2 linked regions of the Homo sapiens genome follow. Changing the gene in region 1 together with any one later gene gives a genetic interaction. Each region holds a gene or a part of one and is shown in the gene's direction. Other genes may lie near its edges.

Evidence for each region. A genetic interaction does not mean that the proteins touch.
Region 2: changes in TRAPPC12 (region 1) and HSP90AB1 together harm fitness more than expected from each alone (negative genetic interaction), as found in Homo sapiens cells (one large-scale study listed by BioGRID).

The regions. Positions count from the first base shown.
Region 1 is NC_000002.12:3,476,210-3,480,992, forward strand, and holds the end of TRAPPC12 (trafficking protein particle complex subunit 12), read left to right. Parts: intron 1-1,485; coding exon 1,486-1,586; intron 1,587-2,383; exon of another isoform or gene 2,384-2,636; coding exon 2,637-2,724; exon of another isoform or gene 2,725-3,009; coding exon 3,010-3,252; 3' UTR 3,253-3,356; downstream 3,357-4,783. UniProt on the Homo sapiens protein: Component of the TRAPP complex, which is involved in endoplasmic reticulum to Golgi apparatus trafficking at a very early stage.
Region 2 is NC_000006.12:44,249,291-44,254,399, forward strand, and holds the end of HSP90AB1 (heat shock protein HSP 90-beta), read left to right. Parts: intron 1-86; coding exon 87-293; intron 294-384; coding exon 385-544; intron 545-730; coding exon 731-864; intron 865-1,000; coding exon 1,001-1,309; intron 1,310-1,757; coding exon 1,758-1,923; intron 1,924-2,127; coding exon 2,128-2,318; intron 2,319-2,446; coding exon 2,447-2,594; intron 2,595-2,708; coding exon 2,709-2,977; intron 2,978-3,754; coding exon 3,755-4,088; intron 4,089-4,198; coding exon 4,199-4,308; 3' UTR 4,309-4,593; downstream 4,594-5,109. UniProt on the Homo sapiens protein: Molecular chaperone that promotes the maturation, structural maintenance and proper regulation of specific target proteins involved for instance in cell cycle control and signal transduction. Undergoes a functional cycle linked to its ATPase activity.

The DNA.
Region 1 (4,783 bases):
TGGGATAACAGCAACAGTTGTGAAGGGCCTGAGATGTTATCCTGTTTCCAAGCTGTGGAGTTAGCTGCCACTTTCATGGATGCTGGCAAAAAATGTAAGATTCCTACGTTAGAGAGGAAGGCTATTTATTACACAGCAACAGCAGTACAGCCAGAGTGGCATTCTTCCCACCAGCCACGGGGCCCTGATTCCTCAGGGTCTTCACCGAGGGCCTCATGAGGCCTGCAGTGGGCTGTGTGGCTGGAGAGGAATCCTGAACTTAGAACACCCAAATCCTTGCTACTGGGAGGCGAGCCTGCCTGCCCTTTGCCCCAGAGGGATGCAGTTTAGCTTACAAGGCTGTCCTCTAAACAGGCATCCTTGTGTAAATGCTTTGAACAAAGCCTTGTCACTGTCTGTGCTTGGAAGACATGCAGAAACATGACACCCATGGAGAACCATCTCCCCACCAGTCATCTGAGAAGTTAGCAGGCTTGTTTTAATGCTGGACAGATGCTTGGCGTGGACAGTCTAAGAGTTAACTAGGCTGCTCAGTATGATAGTGATGGGTGCCCCAGCCCTCCTCATGGAGGTGAGCCGCGCGCATTCAGCTTGTTTCTCATCGAGACAGAGGACAGCATTCTGTTAAGTTTCTGCTGCTGCCATGATAACAGAGCTCGCTGTCACATTCTGGCTCCCGCAGGCTGTGCCCCGGACACAAAGCAACTCTGTCTTTACCCTCGTGAGCGCGGCTTGGGCCATAATAGGACTTTTCTTTCATTTGTATCTATTTCTTATTGTAAGCCTTAGATCATTTATTCCCTTCCTTACACTTCTAGAGGTGAAAGAAAACCCAAGTCTGCCTTTGTAAAACCAAGCTGTGGCCTCAGGAGTCAGGGCTGGGGCACTCAGCCTTCCACCCCCCAGGCCTCCTCTGCCACAGGCCTGCTGCATCCGGCTGCATTTCAGTCGGGCAGCCGGTGGGTTTCCTGACATGCGTGATAAGAGTGGGTTTGAGTTTGGTTTGGCTTGTTTTTTACAGTTGAATTCTATATTATTTGGTCAAAATATTACTTTGCAATTTGCAAATGTGGTGGCACCTACCATTTTACTAGCCACAAGTAACTCATAAGTTGACGTAGGACCTGCTCATATTATACCAATATTTTAAGTATTTTATGTTTCATCTTATTAGTTATTCATTTTATTTTATCTAATGCTCTGCCAGAATTCATTCCAAAAGGTAAAAATTACTAAACTATAAGACTCTTAAATAAGGCGTGTATATTAGCAACTTAGTTTCTGACATATAGAACATTAACATTCCACTGTATCTTAAATGTCTTTTGCCTTTTTATTAAAAAATGATTAAATGGTTACTGAAGTTTTCCTCTGCCTGACATATAAATGTCTTCATATTCTAACATGATATTAGGGAACTAAATATATGAGTATAGACTTAATATTTCTTTTGTCAACTAAACTGACTAAATTTTGTCAAAGCAGATTGGAGACATAAAAACAGCTGAAAAGTATTTTCAAGACGTTGAGAAAGTAACACAGAAATTAGATGGACTACAGGGTAAAATCATGGTTTTGATGAACAGGTAAATATTTTAAAACTAAATATATGTTTTCTCAAATTTCCCAGAGGCGTTCAAGCCCCACTTACTGAGTTGGAAAGCTCCCTAGAGAAGGCGCTTCTCCCTGTATCTCCTCTTGCCCTGTGTCTCTCAGAGCGGAGACCCAAGGAGTATACAGGTGTTTTCTTGAATCGCAGTGATGTTCTTTTAGTCACAGAAGCTGATTTTTAAGGAGCTATTCCCCCTTGTTCTTCAGAGAAGCGCTTGTATTGCCCCCGTTTTCAGCGTATGTGTGTGTAAAGGTCACCATTGCTGGCGTAGCGGCCGTTCTGGATCCTGTGCTCTGGTGTTCTGTGTCTGGATCCCGTGCTCTGGTGTTCTGTGTCTGGATCCCGTGCTCTGGTGTTCTGTGGTAGAACGCACAGCGTCGTGCGAGTGCACGTTCGTGAGGAGGAAACACGCCTTGGACAAAGCCTGCAGCCAGGATCAGAAAGCGTAAATAAAGCAGGTGTCCGCTTTTAGCAGGAAGTCATTTAGGTGAAGTTACTCTATCTCAATTAACAAAAACTAGAGTGGCTTGGCCGGGTGCAGTGGCTCATGCCTGTAATCTCAGCACTTTGGGAAGCTGAGGCACGTAGATCACTTGAGGTCAGGAGTTTGAGGCCAGCCTGGCCAACATGGTGAAACCCCATCTCTACTAAAAATACAAAAAATTAGCCAGGCGTGGTGGCAGTCGCCTGTAATCCCAGCTACTTGGGAGGCTGAGGCAGGAGAGTTGCTTGAATCCAGGAGGCGGAGGTTGCGGTGAGCCGAGATCGTGCCACTGCACTACAGCCTGGGCAACGAGAGCAAAACTCCATCTAAAAAATAAAAATAAATAAAAACTAGAGTGGCTTTAATGTGCGAGCCTGAATGCAAAACGCAGCTCACCGCCTCTACCTGGAGATCAGGAACCCCGGGCCACACAGGGCCATACGCTGGGTCTCTGTGGGATCCAAAGCCCCTGTGGGTTGTGTTGGGGGACAGCAGCTCCTGGGCTTTCCCCGCTAACTGCCACCGTTGCTTGTGTTACAGCGCGTTCCTTCACCTCGGGCAGAATAACTTTGCAGAAGCCCACAGGTTCTTCACAGAGATCTTAAGGATGGATCCAAGAAACGCAGTGGTAAGATCCCCAAGCTGCAGGATCCTCCATCCTCTGCCTTTCACAGACGCTAGAAACATACACCCACACACGTCTCAGCAGGGGCCTGCGCTCTCTCTCTCCAGTCCACCAGCTCCAGGCAGTGGCTGTGGCCCTTAGGGGAAGTGACCCAACAGGGCCACCTAGGCTCTGCCCAGCAGCTCTGCACCACCCCCAGGCCCCTAACACGGCCCAGCACGCAGCCTGGAATGGGCGGGCGTCTGTCCTGGTTGTGTGGGCCAACCCTGGGCGTGTGCTCCTCCCTAGGCCAACAACAACGCTGCCGTGTGTCTGCTCTACCTGGGCAAGCTCAAGGACTCCCTGCGGCAGCTGGAGGCCATGGTCCAGCAGGACCCCAGGCACTACCTGCACGAGAGCGTGCTCTTCAACCTGACCACCATGTACGAGCTGGAGTCCTCACGGAGCATGCAGAAGAAACAGGCCCTGCTGGAGGCTGTCGCCGGCAAGGAGGGGGACAGCTTCAACACACAGTGCCTCAAGCTGGCCTAGCTGCCTCCAACACACTACGTCAGAAGGACCCGGGTCTTTGAAACTGTGTCTTGAAGCTAATGTATTAATGTGACATGGAGGAACTCAATAAAACTCCTGCTTCACTGGTGTCTGCTGCGTGTCTTCTTGGTCCCAAGCCACGGCCCAGCCCAGGACTTCCCCGCAGTTGGTCGGCGTTCAGCCACGCAGTCCCTGCAGCTGGGTCACTGTTCATGAATGCAAGGGGCAGGCGTGCTGGGAGGACACAGCTCGTAGACAGGAAATCTGGAGTCAGCCTCGGGGCCTCTGTTCTGGAGGCCAATCCTGCTTTGCTCGTTCCTTCTGGACATCCTCAGAGAAAAGCTGGGAGGTGTGGAGACCCTCTCGCCGTGCACCTGCACGTACAGGGAGATTTACAACAGGGAAGACACCCCCCACAGATCGCCGCTCATGCTCCTCTTGCCCTCCCCACACACCCAAAACTAAGTGCGTTGGTCTTACCCATCCGAGTCTCCTCCAGCCTGATGCCAGCCAAACGACCCCTGCCAGCCTGGCGGTGGAGGAGAGGCCATCACTGTTTCTCCCATAGTTTATACGTCCACGTGGAGAGTGAGCTGAGTGGAACAGGAAGCACGACGCATAATGAAGCACAGGAAGAGCGCGTAAAACGCAGGCAGGCAGGGGCTGGGGGTGGTTTTGAAGCCAGACACGTGTTTTCATGTGTTCTCTCATGCCTGAAAGGCCTTTTGCCCTTACGTTTACACAGTTATTCCTGCTTTTGAAGAACTTAAAGTACCTGAAAATGTCTTCACTTTACGAAAGAACTCTGCCAAGGGTTCTCTAAATATCTAGCTTTGTGGATAGTTTTAAATATAATTCATTTTACAGACTGTGATATAAACATTTGCACAAAGCGAAGCCATATTTCTGTTAATTTTTGTAATAGAGTAGAAACATACAAACACTGCATCTACCAGACAGTCTCAGCCCATTTGCTGACATCTAGATTAATTATGCATTAAAAGAAAAGAAAAAAGAGGTGAGACAGCCAAAAGGACTGTTGGACACCAAGGAGGTTTCAAGATCTTTCTCTTCAAAAAGAGAACTGAAACTATTGTTAAGCCCAGAAAGATGAAGATGTAATTAGAAGCCCTCCACCTTGAGGGTCTTCCTTCAAATGTGACTTCAGGGATGAAGTGTAAGGCTCTTCCTCTGCTCCAACCTGGCACCTTACTGCAGGCATCTTACAGGATTTGCCAGAGGATTATGGAGCCCGTCCTTTACAGGCTCGGGGCTCAGAGCTGTCCCCGGCCAGTTGTGCGGGAAAGCAGACAGCAGTGCCCAGGCTCCAGCTAGACATGAGCCCGGCAAATCAGAAACAGAGATCAAAGTTCCCTAGTAAGCTGGTAAGCCTAAATCCACCCTCCCTCCCAAGCCCCACCCCCATGCTGCTGGCATGAGGCCAGGCCAGGTGACAGTATCATTGCCTCGTTTCTTGCCTGGATTATTTCTTCCTGGTTTTTTTGTTTTTTTTTTTTTTTTTTTTTTTGAG
Region 2 (5,109 bases), on another chromosome or scaffold:
ATCCTTGCCACTGCACTGTAGCTTGGGCAACAGAGCAAGAGTCTGTCTTGGAAAGAGCAAAAGTAAGTTGCTGTTTGTATTTCCAGGCCTTGGACAAGATTCGCTATGAGAGCCTGACAGACCCTTCGAAGTTGGACAGTGGTAAAGAGCTGAAAATTGACATCATCCCCAACCCTCAGGAACGTACCCTGACTTTGGTAGACACAGGCATTGGCATGACCAAAGCTGATCTCATAAATAATTTGGGAACCATTGCCAAGTCTGGTACTAAAGCATTCATGGAGGCTCTTCAGGTATTGCAGTTCTGTAGGCATTCATACTTATCTGTGTTCTTTGGTTTTTTGCTTCTTTAAAACTTGTGATTGACTTTAAACTTGTTGGCAGGCTGGTGCAGACATCTCCATGATTGGGCAGTTTGGTGTTGGCTTTTATTCTGCCTACTTGGTGGCAGAGAAAGTGGTTGTGATCACAAAGCACAACGATGATGAACAGTATGCTTGGGAGTCTTCTGCTGGAGGTTCCTTCACTGTGCGTGCTGACCATGGTAAGTTAGCTTTTCTGTTACAAGGTAGTTGGGTTAGGATTTTCTGGGCTCACACCAGTAGCAGAAATTTTGGGCATCCTGTCTGTAAAGCAGTTCTTCACAGCAGTTCTGCTGATACTTACTAATTGCTGGTCTCAACTGCATATACTTTTTACCCTGTTACACGCTTGTAATTGACTCTTCTAGGTGAGCCCATTGGCAGGGGTACCAAAGTGATCCTCCATCTTAAAGAAGATCAGACAGAGTACCTAGAAGAGAGGCGGGTCAAAGAAGTAGTGAAGAAGCATTCTCAGTTCATAGGCTATCCCATCACCCTTTATGTGAGTATGGACTTTTAAATCTTTTACACTTAACGTGCAGGATGTTTCCTGTTCTGGAGAATCTCATTGTCCCTGGCTTTTGCTTTCCCTGGTAGTGTTTTGTACTCCAAGGCTAACTTCTGTTTTTGTTACTTAGTTGGAGAAGGAACGAGAGAAGGAAATTAGTGATGATGAGGCAGAGGAAGAGAAAGGTGAGAAAGAAGAGGAAGATAAAGATGATGAAGAAAAACCCAAGATCGAAGATGTGGGTTCAGATGAGGAGGATGACAGCGGTAAGGATAAGAAGAAGAAAACTAAGAAGATCAAAGAGAAATACATTGATCAGGAAGAACTAAACAAGACCAAGCCTATTTGGACCAGAAACCCTGATGACATCACCCAAGAGGAGTATGGAGAATTCTACAAGAGCCTCACTAATGACTGGGAAGACCACTTGGCAGTCAAGGTGTGAGAAGCCTTTGCATGTTGGCTCAACATGCACATATGGAGAGGAATGAGTTAGGTGGAAGAGTGTTGGGTAATAGACACACGGAACTTGTCCAACTGATAACAGAAATGTGATAGCCATGTGATTTCACTTACTGATTACCCTGTCATAGTGAAGTGCCATCATTTCTAATGACCTCACTTTCTCTTCTTATGGAAATCTGGGTAATGTCTATTGGCAGCCTTACACATCCAGGGTTCTGATCAGAGGGGACTGTTTTCTACATACAGCTAGTACCCATCTAGATCGTGGAGGGCATTAAGGCTCAGTTTTCTCAGGAGCTGCTTGTTGTGTGTGCTCTATCCCTTAGGCTTAGGGAGGATCATTGTTCCACTTTTAGATAATTTGGTGTTGGGGCTAAAAGGTCCTCTTTTGAAATGTACCACTTATTTTTGGTTTCTTTCAGCACTTTTCTGTAGAAGGTCAGTTGGAATTCAGGGCATTGCTATTTATTCCTCGTCGGGCTCCCTTTGACCTTTTTGAGAACAAGAAGAAAAAGAACAACATCAAACTCTATGTCCGCCGTGTGTTCATCATGGACAGCTGTGATGAGTTGATACCAGAGTATCTCAGTGAGTATCTCCTTGGCCTAATTTAGTTGGGTGAAGTCTTGGGAGGTTTTAGGCATTCTGCTAGGATATTCTAAGGTAACAGTTTTCTGCAATACATAGTAGGTGTAAGGGTTCAGGAGGCTATTAGAGCCTTCTGTTTGAATCTGGGGACCAGGTCTGGTCTAGCTGTTTTTTACTGAGCTTTCTCACCCTGGTTGATGGCAGATTTTATCCGTGGTGTGGTTGACTCTGAGGATCTGCCCCTGAACATCTCCCGAGAAATGCTCCAGCAGAGCAAAATCTTGAAAGTCATTCGCAAAAACATTGTTAAGAAGTGCCTTGAGCTCTTCTCTGAGCTGGCAGAAGACAAGGAGAATTACAAGAAATTCTATGAGGCATTCTCTAAAAATCTCAAGGTAAAAAGGCAAATAATGCTTATTCCCTTTACCACTTTCTTAGTAATAACAATAAATTATTCCATTCACATTGAAAGTGAAGTTATTGTAGTTAAGCTGGATTGTTTTTCCTCTTCCCACCCTTCAAGCTTGGAATCCACGAAGACTCCACTAACCGCCGCCGCCTGTCTGAGCTGCTGCGCTATCATACCTCCCAGTCTGGAGATGAGATGACATCTCTGTCAGAGTATGTTTCTCGCATGAAGGAGACACAGAAGTCCATCTATTACATCACTGGTGCGTTGACTCTGATTGAAGCCTTTTTGGAGGAGTGGGGAGCACAATTAGGGCTTCCTGGGAACTGGCAGTATGAGGCATTTTAGTCACTGAGTTCATTTAATTACCCTACAGGTGAGAGCAAAGAGCAGGTGGCCAACTCAGCTTTTGTGGAGCGAGTGCGGAAACGGGGCTTCGAGGTGGTATATATGACCGAGCCCATTGACGAGTACTGTGTGCAGCAGCTCAAGGAATTTGATGGGAAGAGCCTGGTCTCAGTTACCAAGGAGGGTCTGGAGCTGCCTGAGGATGAGGAGGAGAAGAAGAAGATGGAAGAGAGCAAGGCAAAGTTTGAGAACCTCTGCAAGCTCATGAAAGAAATCTTAGATAAGAAGGTTGAGAAGGTAAGCCATTCTGGGGCTAGGATATATTTTGTAACATCTTCGAGGTGGGCTCCCTCACAAGCATGTTTCTATACAATTAGTGGTTTGAGGCAGCCTATTTACTGTTTCATGCCTTCTTGCCTCTTGTTCTCTTCTCTAGTCAGGTTTAAGGCTATTTTAATAAAATTTGGCACAGATTAGGCATTGCTTCAGTTAACTTCTGAGAGTAGATAAAATACCATCATTTTCTTTTTTTTTTCTTTTTTTGAGATGGGGTCTCGCTCTGTCACCCAGGCTGGAGTGCAGTGGCACGATCTCTGCTCATTGCAAGCTCCGCCTCCTGGGTTCACGCCATTCTCCTGCCTTAGCCTCCTGAGTAGCTGCCACTACAGGCGCCCGCCACCACACCCCGGCTAATTTTTTGTATTTTTAGTAGAGATGGGGTTTCATCGCGTTAGCCAGGATGGTCTCCATCTCCTGACCTTGTGATTCGCCCACCTCGGCCTCCCAAAGTGCTGGGATTAACAGGCGCAAGCCACCATGCCTGGCCGATTTTTTTTTTTTTTGGACTGGATCTCGCTCACTGCAAACTCAAGTCTCCTGAGTGGCTGGGATTACAGATGTGTGCTACCACACCCGGTTAATTTTTTGTAGACAGGGTTTTGCCATGTTGGCCAGCATGGTCTCAAACTCAAGTGGTCTGTCCACCTCCTCCCCCTGCTGGAATTAGGCTTGACAATGCCTGTTTTCTCTTTCAAAGTGGTAATGTCAATCTAAGGCTTTTGTGATCGTCCACAGGTGACAATCTCCAATAGACTTGTGTCTTCACCTTGCTGCATTGTGACCAGCACCTACGGCTGGACAGCCAATATGGAGCGGATCATGAAAGCCCAGGCACTTCGGGACAACTCCACCATGGGCTATATGATGGCCAAAAAGCACCTGGAGATCAACCCTGACCACCCCATTGTGGAGACGCTGCGGCAGAAGGCTGAGGCCGACAAGAATGATAAGGCAGTTAAGGACCTGGTGGTGCTGCTGTTTGAAACCGCCCTGCTATCTTCTGGCTTTTCCCTTGAGGATCCCCAGACCCACTCCAACCGCATCTATCGCATGATCAAGCTAGGTCTAGGTAAGTAGCTTTGGTACTTGGTGTGGCAAGGAGTTTGTGCAACTCGTCTCCTCTATGGATTTGACTTAATGCTATTTGGTCAAGTCTCACATGGCTTAATTTTACTTCAGGTATTGATGAAGATGAAGTGGCAGCAGAGGAACCCAATGCTGCAGTTCCTGATGAGATCCCCCCTCTCGAGGGCGATGAGGATGCGTCTCGCATGGAAGAAGTCGATTAGGTTAGGAGTTCATAGTTGGAAAACTTGTGCCCTTGTATAGTGTCCCCATGGGCTCCCACTGCAGCCTCGAGTGCCCCTGTCCCACCTGGCTCCCCCTGCTGGTGTCTAGTGTTTTTTTCCCTCTCCTGTCCTTGTGTTGAAGGCAGTAAACTAAGGGTGTCAAGCCCCATTCCCTCTCTACTCTTGACAGCAGGATTGGATGTTGTGTATTGTGGTTTATTTTATTTTCTTCATTTTGTTCTGAAATTAAAGTATGCAAAATAAAGAATATGCCGTTTTTATACAGTTCTGCTTTCCCTTGTGAAGTGGATGTTATCCTTCCCTAGCTTCTTCATCCCTCCAGCTCTTGCTGTTTTCATGAGCACAGCAAGTTGAGCTGGTTTTGTAGTGAAAATAACAGAATACCAGTGAGTCTTAAGAGTTCACACACTGAAGCTAAAGGCAGTTTGGAAAAACTACCATATAATAATGCCCTTTCAGTCAACCAAAACACAGGACCAAGTCCACTGCAGTAATTTAATTTAATAAAATAAAATTATAAGAGCAAAAAGTTACATTTCTAAAGTACCAAAACCTGCAACAGGCTCATGGAACAGAGCCTAGGGATCCAGGAGCATAGGAGGTGGTGGTGCTGGGCAGGGCTCTGCATCCCCTTTCCTCAGCACAGCACCATCTTCACCCTCCTGGGAAAGCAGCATTGGAGCCTACACCGCTTGTGCTTTTCTCACCAGGGTAAGAAATGCAGGTATTTGCAGAGGGGAGTGAGTCTGGAAGGTGGCAGAGCACAGCTAGGGCAAGACT